Regions from separate parts of the Homo sapiens genome. Here region 1 is linked to region 2. The links come from fine-mapping of genetic effects on gene expression. Tissue or cell type: ileum. Region 2 holds a variant in brackets; the other region holds the start of a gene. All regions are shown on one strand. Distances are between the middles of the regions.

What was found. PIP is the estimated chance that this variant, and not a neighbour inherited with it, causes the effect.
Region 1: it holds the start of HEATR4, and the variant in region 2 is fine-mapped to the expression of HEATR4 in ileum (GTEx, PIP 0.93).

Annotation. Positions count from the first base shown.
Region 1 is chr14:73,556,436-73,561,765 of GRCh38, reverse strand. HEATR4 (HEAT repeat containing 4) reads left to right here and starts at 2,819. Exons shown (of 18, transcript NM_001220484.1): 1 at 2,819-3,015. RefSeq lists an enhancer at 1,818-1,987.
Region 2 is chr14:73,462,008-73,467,712 of GRCh38, reverse strand. It overlaps LOC101928143 (a long non-coding RNA gene), which reads left to right and starts at 4,071. Exons shown (of 3, transcript NR_135251.1): 1 at 4,071-4,238; 2 at 5,024-5,184. RefSeq lists enhancers at 2,543-2,772, 4,033-4,122. The variant C/T (reference allele first, on the strand shown) is at 2,811.

The DNA of each region.
Region 1 (5,330 bases), 94 kb before region 2:
GCAATCTTCCTACCTCGGCCTCCCAAAGTGCTGGGATCATAGGCATGAGCCACCTCACACAGCCATTTCATTCATTTTTTTTGAGACAGAGTTTCACTCTTGTTGCCCGGCTGGGGTGGAGTGGTGCAATCTTGCTTGGCTCACTGCAACCTCCTGGGTTCAAGTGATTTCCTGCCTCAGCCTCCCCAGTAGCTGGGACTACAGGTGTGTGCCACCATGCCCAGCTAATTTTTGTATTTTTAGTAGAGACGGGGTTTACTGTGTTGGCCAAGCTGGTCTCGAACTCCTGACCTTGAGTAATCTGTCCGCCTCAGGCTCCCAAAGTGCTGGGATTATAGGCGTGAGCCACTGCACCTGGCCCATTTCATTCCTTTTTCTTTTTTTTTCTTTCTTTTTTTTTGAGATAAACTCTCGCTCTGTCGCCCGGGCTGGACCACAATGGCGAGATCTTGGCTCACTGCAACCTCTGCCTCCTGGGTTCAAGAGATTCTCCTGCCTCGGTCTCCTGAGTAGCTGGGATTACAGGCGCCTGCCACTACGCCTGGCTAATTTTTGTATTTTTAGTAGAGATGGAGTTTCACCATGTTGACCAGGCTGGTCTTGAACTTTTGACCTCAGGTGATCCACCCTCCTCGGCCTCCCAAAGTGCTGGGATTACAGGCCTGAGCCACCACGCCCAGCCCATTTCATTCCTTTTTAAGGCTGAATAACATTCTGTTGTATGTATCTTCCACATTTTGTTTATCCATTCATTCACTGATGGACATTTGGGTTCTTTCCACCGTTTGGCTATTGTGAGTATGCTGCTATGAACATGGGTATACAAATATCTGTTAAAGTCCCTGCTTTCAATTCTTTTGGATATGTACCCAGAAGTAGAATTGCTGGATCACATAGTAATTCTATATTTAATTTTTTGAGGAACCTTCAACAGGGTTTTGATTTATTAGAAACAGGGTCTCCCTCTGTCACTGAGGCTGGGGTGCAGTAGTGCCATCATAGCTCACTGCAGCCTCAAACTCCTGGGCTCAAATGATCCTCCTGCCTTAGCAGGGTTATAATGTTTAATTTTTTTAGTATTTAATTTTCTTTTTTTTTTTTTTTGAGATGGAGTCTTGCTCTGTCGCCCAGGCTGGAGTGCAGTGGCCCAATCTCGGCTCACTGCAAGCTCCGCCTCCCGGGTTCATGCCATTCTCCTGCCTCAGCCTCCAAGTAGCTGGGACTACAGGCGCCTGCCACCACGCCTGGCTAATTTTTTTGTATTTTTAGTAGAGATGGGGTTTCACCGTGTTACCCAGGATGGTTTAAATCTCCTGACCTCGTGATCCGCCCAACTTGCCTCCCAAAGTGCTGGGATTATGGGCGTGAGCCACAGCGCCTGGCTCAGTCTTTACTTTTCATAACAGAAAACGTACCCTCTGCTTTTTATGGGGGTCTAACCATCTGAGTGCAGCTTGAGCTCAAGTGCTAAAGTCCATATTCAGGTTGGTCAGCAGCAGCAGTCTTGCTTGGAACCAAGAGATGGACCACCTGAATAGCATGACCTGGGTCAACGAGACAGAGCCTTAGGCCCAGAAATCTTTCCTGCTGTCAGGATAAATTAGTTTGTTTCACAAAGGGACTCTTGAAGATCAGAATTTCTGTATCTGTAAGACTTCTATGACTTAAAGAATTTCTGTACGTGTGAAATTATACTATTAGAAATACAAGATTGAAGAGTCTCCTTGTAAAAGCTAGTGTTAATGGCTAATAATCTAGCCAGGATTTAGAGATCAGGGAAAATGGGATTGAACTGTGTGGGCAAAGGAGATTAAGTAGCAGTGGAGGAGCTGAAAGGGGAATGGAAAAGTCGACGGACAGCTTCTACTTTACCATCTGTTTTATCAGCCTGGTAATCTGACGCCTGCCAGAACTATGTGGTCATGTGTTCCCTGCTTTGCCTCTTTCTCAGGATTTATAAACCCTTGTGGTGGGAGAATATGGAGCTGCATATATCTAGAGGGTTTTTTTATTTTTATCTTTTGAGACTGCACTTCACTCTTGCTGCCCAGGCTGGAGTGCAATGGCCTGATCTTGGCTCACTGCAACCTCTGCTTCCTGGGTCCAAGCGATTCTCCTGCCTCAGCCTCCCGAGTAGCTGGGATTACAGGCATGCGCCACCAGGCCCAGGTGATTTTCTTTTTAAATTTTCTATTTTTAGTAGAGATGGGGTTTCACCATGTTGGTCAGGCTGGTCTCTAACTCCTGACCTCAGGTGATCCGCCACCTCAGCCTCCCAAAGCGCTGAAATTGCAGGCGTGAGCCATCGCGCCTGGCTGAGGTTTATTTTTCAAAGAATGACCAAGAGGCTAGGTGTGGTGGCTCACAGTTGCAAATCCCAGCACTTTGGGAGGCCAAGGCGGACACATCACTTGAGGTCAGGAGTTTGAGAACAGCCTGTCCAACATGGTGAAACCCCATCTCTACTAAAAGTACAATTAGTGGGGCATGGTGGTGTGGCCTGTAATGGGAGGCTGAGACAGGAGAATTGCTTGAACCTGGGAGGCACAGGTTGCAGTGAGCCGAGATCGCACCACTGCACTCCAGCCTAGGCAACTGAGTGAGACTGTCTCAAAAAAGAAAAAAGACCAAAAACTCCATGAAACTACCATTCAATAAATAATCAATAAATAAGATGCAATTTCTCAAAGCTCAGTTTACAAAGAAGGAAATTTAATAAATGGTTGAAGATATACCCCCGACTGAACCCACAAGTTCTCTGAGTAGACTCATGGAATTCTAAAGAGTTGGTTGCTTGGAGACTGATAGAAACAGCTTTGGAACCTAAGAAACCAAGGAAGGCTTAAGATGCAGAACCTTGCTTCTCTCTGAGGACTGCCTTTTAGGAGGCCATTTGGAAAGTAATTTTGAAACACTGCTCCTTTGCCAGTATCTGAAAGGTGCTGGATGGTGTCAGCTGGAAGATGAGGGGCAACCTGAGGTAGCTGAAAAAACTTTGGATTAGGTGTCAAAAGGGTCAGTACTACTTTAGATACCAAGCAGTATGGTGATCTTAATGATTTCTCTTCTCTCTGGGCCCCAGTTTTGGGATTTATAAAATCAGGACATTAGGCCTGGTGCAGTGGCTCATGCCTGTATTCCCAGCATTTTGGGAGGCCAAGGTGGGAGGACTGTTTGAGTCCAGGAGTTCAAGACCAGCCTGAGCAACATAGTGAGACTCTATCTCTACAAAAAAAAAAAAAAAAAAAAAAATTTAACCGAGAGTGGTGTGCTATGTGCCTATGCTCCCAGCTATGTGGGAGGATTGCTTGAGCCCAGGAGGTCAAGGCTGCAGTGAGTCATGATCACGCCACTGTACTCCAGGAGAGTGAGACCCTGTCTCAAAAAAAAAAAAACAAATCAAGGCATTAGACCAGGTCATCTTTATAGCAGAGTTTCCAGAGTAATCTCTGGAGATAGCTGTATAGCTGTGTGAGTGCATGGTAAAAAATTAGAAAGTAGAGGGGAAAAAATGAGGGGAACTTTTTGAGGGCAAAAAGGGAGAAAGGGGGACTTGAAACAAGCCAGGTTAAGCAGCTGTTCCCTAATCCCACTCTCCCCACTAACCAGGCTTCCTTCATACACCCCACTGACACCCTTTGGGCTGTGCTTTCTTTAAATGTATTGTGTATTAAACCTGAGAGCTTGTGAAAATGCAGATTTCTAGGCCTCACTTGCAGGCTACTGAATCAGCATTCTGGGAGTAGGACACAAGAGTCTGATGTAAAAGGTTCTTTACCCATATCTATTCCAGGCATAGTCCCAGCATTTCTGGAGGCCAAGGCAGGAAGATCACTTGATTCCAGGAGTTTGAAACCAGCCTGGACAACATAGTAAGACCCTGTCTCTACAAAAAAAAGTTTTAAAACATTAGCCAGGCATGGTGGTGCACACCTGTGGTCCCAGCTACTGGGGACGCTGAGGCAGGAGGATTGCTTGAGCCTGGGAGGCAAGGCTGCAGTGAGCCATGACTGTGCCACCGCACTCCAGCTTGGGTGACAGAGTGAGGCCCTGTCTCAAACATAAATAAATAAACAAAAAACTGTATCTAACAAACACCACCCCAGAAGCTGACTGCACACTCTTGGACTCCACCTCAGAACTTCAGAATCCAAATCTGTTGGTAGAGATGAGAGTATTATTTTTTTAAAGCTTTCAGAAGATACTGATACTAAGGCTTATTGCTTTTTAGTCTTTTCTTTCAAGGCAGTTTCCTCTATTTTAATAACAAGGGAGAATGCAAGATATTACTCCTTTTAGCACATGTTACTCAACCTACTTTGACCACTTGTACAGGATAAAGGTATCAGACCAGAGGGTGAGGGTAAGCGACTGATAAGCAAACAGAAAAGTGGAACTAAATTTGGAATCTCTGAGATACTACCCAGTTTGAGTTGAGTTCTGTATTCATAAAATATTAGAGGCAGGAGAGGAATTTAGTCCAACTCCTACGTTTTCCAGCTGGGGATCTAGGAAGTTCATCAGGTTTTAACTAGAGGCATGTGGCCTAACCCTTCCAACCCCATTCCTCCCCTTCTAGCCCAAGTTCCTAGAAATGCAGATAATGCTGGTGGGTTGCTCATTCCAGGGCCTGGTCTGCAGTTATGCCAGGATTGACTTAGTCAATTTTTTATGCTGTCTATGTACAAAAGGACCCCGGACCTGCCACTCTGCTTTTGGTTCTAGAGGGCTATTTGTTGGGAGTGGGGTGCTGCCTCATAATGCTGGTCACGTAATGTGTAAGTTTCGATAATAAGGAGCCTCCAAACTCCATTAATAAGTCCTTTCTTTCTTCTCTAAGCACCCTCTCTTTTAATTGCTGAGTACCCCATAGCCCTAAATTCTTCCCGAAGCGCCCAGTGCATCTAACTGTAGGACCCAGAGACTTGCCTTCTAAGGACAACAGTCCATCCTCTAAACTAATAATAACAATTCCTCACACATATATTTTAGTTTGCAAAGAACTTTCATACGTTTCTAATTTTGAGGTTCATATCAATCAACACTAAATTAGAACAGGTATCAGACTCAATTTTCAGATTGGGAAACTACAGATTTCAAATTATTTGCCCAAGGTAACATGACTGGGAAGTGCACAATTTGGCCTTACACCTGTCCCGTGACTCCAAGACAGACAAAGACAAGCCAGAACAAGCCTCTTTTGATCAGACCTTGTGTAACATTTTGTTCTGTCCCCATTCCTTTTCAAAACAGACCTATCATGTGTTCCCTTCCTTCTTAATAAGCCATCATATCGGATGATAATAACTATTCCTTAAGTTTTTTTTGTT
Region 2 (5,705 bases):
AAAGAGGAGCCACAGACCATGAGCTTGTAAGAGAGAGAGGAGTGGGAAGGAAGAGTCTTTTCTCTTGGGTTGCCTTTTTGTTCCCAGGGAGGGGGCCAAGACCATGAACCTTGGCCTCCGCGGGAGGAGGAGATTAGCAGGATGAGTCTTTACCTCCATCACCCATCCTCAGGGTGCTGCTGACTTGTTTCCGCTGGAGGCGGGATGACTCAGCGCAGACCCTTGATGGGGAAATCTGTCTCAGAGGCTGAAAGGAAAGCAACAGAGGGCCACCACTGGCCTTGTTCTTTAATTTAATTTTCATATCAGAAAGACTTCATTGAGTTTGGGGAAATGGAGCTTAATTCTCCCTGTTCCCCAGTGTTGGCAACTCCGAAAAGAATTTCCCAAAGGAATGACCCTGTCCACAGGAGTCCAAGAGAGATGGGCAGTGGGGTTCCAAATTCAGAGTGCGGGGATAGCCCCCCACCTGGAGGAGACCTTTATTTAGTCATACTCCACCACTGTGCTTTTGCCTACTAAATACTATAACCACCGGTGATCATTATGTGATAATTAGCACAGGCCTTTTTTATAACTCCCAGAGCACTACCCCAAAATAAGTGATTGTGTCAGGTGGCAAGGCTACTCCTAGAGACAATTCCTGACTCACTCATTCATTCACTAAATATTTAGTGAACTACTGTGGGCCAGGCCCTATGCTAGGCAGCCATGAGCAGGAAGGTTGTTGTCCCTGGTATTACAGTGCCGACATGTTGCTGGATGGCTAGGCACTGAGCAAGTTTACCCACGGGATATGTGTATCCAAAGTGGAAATGCAGTGTGTATAAGAGGGGCACCCAACTCAATGTGGCTGGGAGAGGGATAACAGGAAGCCTCCCCTATAATAGTAACTTTGAAGATGAGATCTGTAGGAGAGGCAGGAGCTAGCAAATGGAATCCAACTTAGGGTAAACCTATGCTATTTGTATGAGTTCCCCAAAACTTAAAGTTAAACCCAAAGTTGCCTCTTCATATAAACCCTCCAAAGTAACTAATAGGCTATGCCAGCTACAGTGCAGCCAACTCTACTTCCGTACAACGTGATGCTACTTTGGAAAAGTGTGAAATCCTACTTAAGTGGAAGGTGTAATTATTGCAGAGTATTTCAGGGAGGAAGATGGCACCAGGGAAATAGGCATGAAAATCAGGTTCTTCTATTATTTCCACAACCTGGTCTAATTCTCCATGCCCTTGGGATGGCCTGGGTCTGTGATAGGAAATATGTTTTTCTGTCTCTATTTGAGCAACAACATCCTTCTTATCAGCTGCTCCAATGAGGAAGACACTGATGTCCTTTTGCAGGAAACTAACAGGAAAAGAAAGAAAGCTTACCACTAAATACACATCCTGAGGGTGAAATGAAATGACTGCAGTGTAGGAAAGGGCTGAATAAATAAATACACCATTCCTATTGTATAGTCAGACTTCCTGGGGGCGAGTCCTCATCTCTTTACCCTGTCTTTCCCTTCTAAAATCCGCTAACCTGCCAAGGGACCGAACAAAGTTTTCTCTGGCTATTAACAGGTATGGAAACATACAAGTCTCCTCTGTCCCAGACACAGAGGAAACACAGAATAGAGAATAGGAAGGAGAGAAAACCAGAGCCACAGGAAGAGGAACTTGATATTGGTGTACATCTCCCCTTCATGTTTACAGAACTTTCCCAGCAACTTCTGCTTTGAGCCTTTCTGTGTACAAATCTGGTAATGTTTGGGAACATTTCGGGAGAGGAAAGGGCCAGGGCTAGTGCAGCTCAGAAAATCATCCGAACTCTTTAAATCACAGCTGCACAGGTGACTTGATTTAGAGGGAGAGGTGTAAACTGTCATTATCTGTGAATACTGAGCTCTAATCCTGTAGAGCTGCAGTGGAGACTGCTAGAGAAGATGATTCCTGATCTGAAAACAATTCCAGCCTGGAGGATCCTAAGGCATTTCCTTGTAAGGGTAGTTTTCTTCTGTGCGGAAAAGAAATGAAAGAACATGTGCAAATATGGGTGGGAGAAGAAGAAACAGAGACAGAGAGAGAGAGAGACAGATAAGTTGCAAAAACTTGGATCTTTGTATTTCTTTCTTTTCTTTTTCTTTTCTTTTCTTTTCTTTTTTCTTTTTTTTTTTTTTTTTTGAGACAGAGTTTCTTCTTTCTTGTTGCCCAGGCTGGAGTGCAATGGTGCTATCTCGGCTCACCGCAACCTCCGCCTCTCGGGTTTAAGTGATTCTCCTGCCTCAGCCTCCCAAGTAGCTGGGATTACAGGCATGAGCCACCGCACCCGGCCTGGATCTTTGTATTTCTACGGTGTTTTTAGTTTAAGGATCATTTACACTTTAGGAGGTTTTTGTTTTTTCTGTCTTTCTTATGTAATAATTATGGGTGAGCCCTGAGAAATGACTCAAAGCAAAAATAATGGGGTTTTCTTGATTATAGTTCCTCATTTTTCCTGGCCACAGGCCAACCCTCAATATCCTCCACCTTTATAAGGAAGACAGCTTCAACCCAGCCCTAAAGGGTGACTCCAGCCTCTTATGATCTTTCTTTCATGTTGCAAACTGGACTCTCTTCTTCCAACTTTCTAATTGCAAAATTGCTCTTTATTTTTATGGGTTCTTATTACTTCCAACCCAGGTGTGAAAATGTCTTCTTGGACACCCTTATCCCATCTGTAGGGCCTGTGTAGGTCCCTCTTTCTCTCATTCTTAGTTGAGGATTGACTGAGTAGACTGCACAATGATGACCATATTTTAAAAGGGACAAAGGTCACATAGCGAAGT[C/T]TCTGTTCATTCTCCCAGGCACAATCCCTTCTGTCTGGATTCTGGTTGGGGCCAGGCTCAGACTTTTGTGCATATAGGAGGTGCTGCCATAATTAGCCCATTTTGCTGGTTTTGTGCATACCCTTCTTGGTATAGGGCAGGCAGGAAATTAGACTGTGTTATGGATTTGGTGGTCATATTTTATGAACCCCAAATCTAGAATTGTGCTCTGGTGAGTATAGGGTGCTAATGGAAAAACTGAACAAAACATATGGAAATAAGGCCACCCTGGAAAAGTAATGAGAGTTCATAGTATTTCCTTCCAGTAGCTTGGAGAGAATATCAAATATCACATGTTTATTAATAATGTTGGTTTTTTTTTTGAGATGGAGTCTCGCTCTGTTGCCCAGACTGGAGTGCAGTGGCGTGATCTCTGCTCACTGCAAGCTCCGCCTCCTGAGTTCATGCCATTCTCCTGCTTCAGCCTTCTGAGTAGCTGGGACAACAGGTGTCCGCCACCATGCCCAATTAATTTTTTTGTATTTGTAGAGATGGGGTTTCACCGTGTTAGCTAGGATGGTCTCGATCTCCTGACCTTGTGATCCGCCCGCCTTGGCCTCCCAAAGTGCTGGGATTACAGGCGTGAGCTACCGTGCCCGGCTATTAATAATGTTAACAATAACTAATGATTATTGAGCATTTACTACATGTCAGGTCCTGAATTATGTATATTATTTCATTTACTCCTCATAAAAGGGTTCCTTCTAGGAGCTAGGGGAGAAAACCAGCCATTATATAGTCAATAATAATATTAATGGTAATAATAGTTATTATATATAACAGTTATATATTACATAACATATGCTGGCCCGAATTGAACATATTCTCTAATTTGATTTTTGAATATTTAAAAATATACACATATATTTGTTTTTTTTTTTTAAGAGATGGAGGAGTCTCACCATGTTGCCCAAGCTGGCCTCAAACCCCTGGCCTCAAGTGAGCCTCCCACCTCAGCCTCCCAAGTAGCTGCCACCATGCAGTCTCTAATTTAAATTTTAAACAAACCCTAGATGTTATTATTATCTTAGAGTAGGCTGCTTCTAAAATAGCTCCCAATGATCCTCTTGCTGGTCTTTACATCCTTGTGTAATCTCCTTGAGTGTGGGCTGGACCTAATGACTTACTTCTAACTCACAGGATGTGGCAACAGTGATGGGATGTCACATCTGTGATTGGATTACGAAAGACTGTGCCTTCTGTTTTGCTATTACTGTCTCTGGTGAGTCCTCTCTCTTGCTCTTGCTTGCTTGCACTGATGAAGTAAGCTGCCACGTTGTGAGATGCTCAACGAAGAGGCCCATGAGGCAGGGCACCGAGGGAGGCTTCTGGCCAACAGCTCCTGGGGAACCAAGGCCTTAGGAAGTGAGTCCTGCCAACAATAACGAGGTGAGTGAGGCAGGAAGCAGATCTGTCCCAACTGAGCTTGAGATGACTGTGGTCTTATAAGAGACCCAATGCCAGAGAGTTGACCCACAGAAACTGAGACGATAAACGTTCTTTTAAGCTACTGAGTTTTGGGGTAATTTGTTATGCAAGACAAGATAGCTAATATGTATCTCATTTTATAGATGAAGAAAATGAAGCTTTAGGGTGATGAATCAATGTTCCCCAAATTACACAGTTGGTAAATGGCAGAGCCAAAGCTTTTGGAACATACTAAGTTCGAGGTTCTAGGGTCTGAGTTTAAGTCTGCTTTCTCATGAGGTTCCAAGTGATTGGGACACTGCAGTTCTGGAAGAATTCTACTCTCTGAAATCCTTGGAGGATAGCCATGTTTCCAGGAAACTCTTTGTGTGCATAAAAACAGAGATGGACAAAAGTTTAAATGGTGCTAAGTGCTTTGAGTCGGTCCACTCCCTGCTGCAGAAGAATGGCTGATCCACCCATAGATCTGGTGATAGTAACCAGGAGCTCCAGTCAATAGCACAATGGCAGAACTCAGAGCTACAGCCCATCCATTTTTACAAGCGCTCAAGCCATATTATGTAAAGCAGGCGGAAGGGGGCATACACTTTTCTTGAGGATGAAAATGAATGCATTTAGTAATGAAAATGCATAGTGTGGTATTTAAAAATTACATGAGCTCTGGAATCAAATAACAAATGGTTCTGCCTGAGAGACCAGAACACCTTCTTTCACTGATTTTTTTTTCCTTCCCATCCCTGAAACAGAGCCTTGAACTTTGAAACCACAGTACCTTGTTCCAGCGTGGAAAGCAGCGTGGCACTTCCCGGTGGTGAAAGCACCCCAGCTTGAAAGGGTGAAAACACCTTCTCCCAGATAGTCTCCCTTTGTTTAGCCAGTGCTTTTGCCTTAAGGAAATCAAATGAAGGTATGCTCCTTGGTTGGCTGCTGAATCTGTCCTTCCTTGTCAGCTTTGCCCAGAGCAGCAGGCTTTGAGCTCTGGGAGGATTTCCAGGTGGCAGCAGAACAACGGTCCCATAGGCTGGAGCCTGGCACGCTTTCCCTTTTAACCAGTGGCAGAGGCTGCACTTTGCTGGTGTAATTATGCAACCTAGTGTAAAGTCCACATGGGTGGGGATAGGGGGTAGGCAAGGCAGGACTGTAAGCTGGCTCAGCACTCTGATTGGGTTTTTTGACTGTTTTTCTAGCTTTTCTTACCCTTTTCTCTCCTGCCCCCTCATCTCCTCCTCTTCCCTCCTTTTCCCTCCCCTTCTCTCTAATCCCTTCATCTTTGTCAGCCTCCACCCTCAGGGATCCCTAACTCAGGAAGCTACCTCTTATCAAATATTTTGGCTTGCCTCCAACTGCTAGTGGCAGGCAGTTCTGGCCCTTGTCTGCTATCTGAGCGATTTTCTTCTCCACCGGTTGTTTATTTCTCTAATCTAGTTG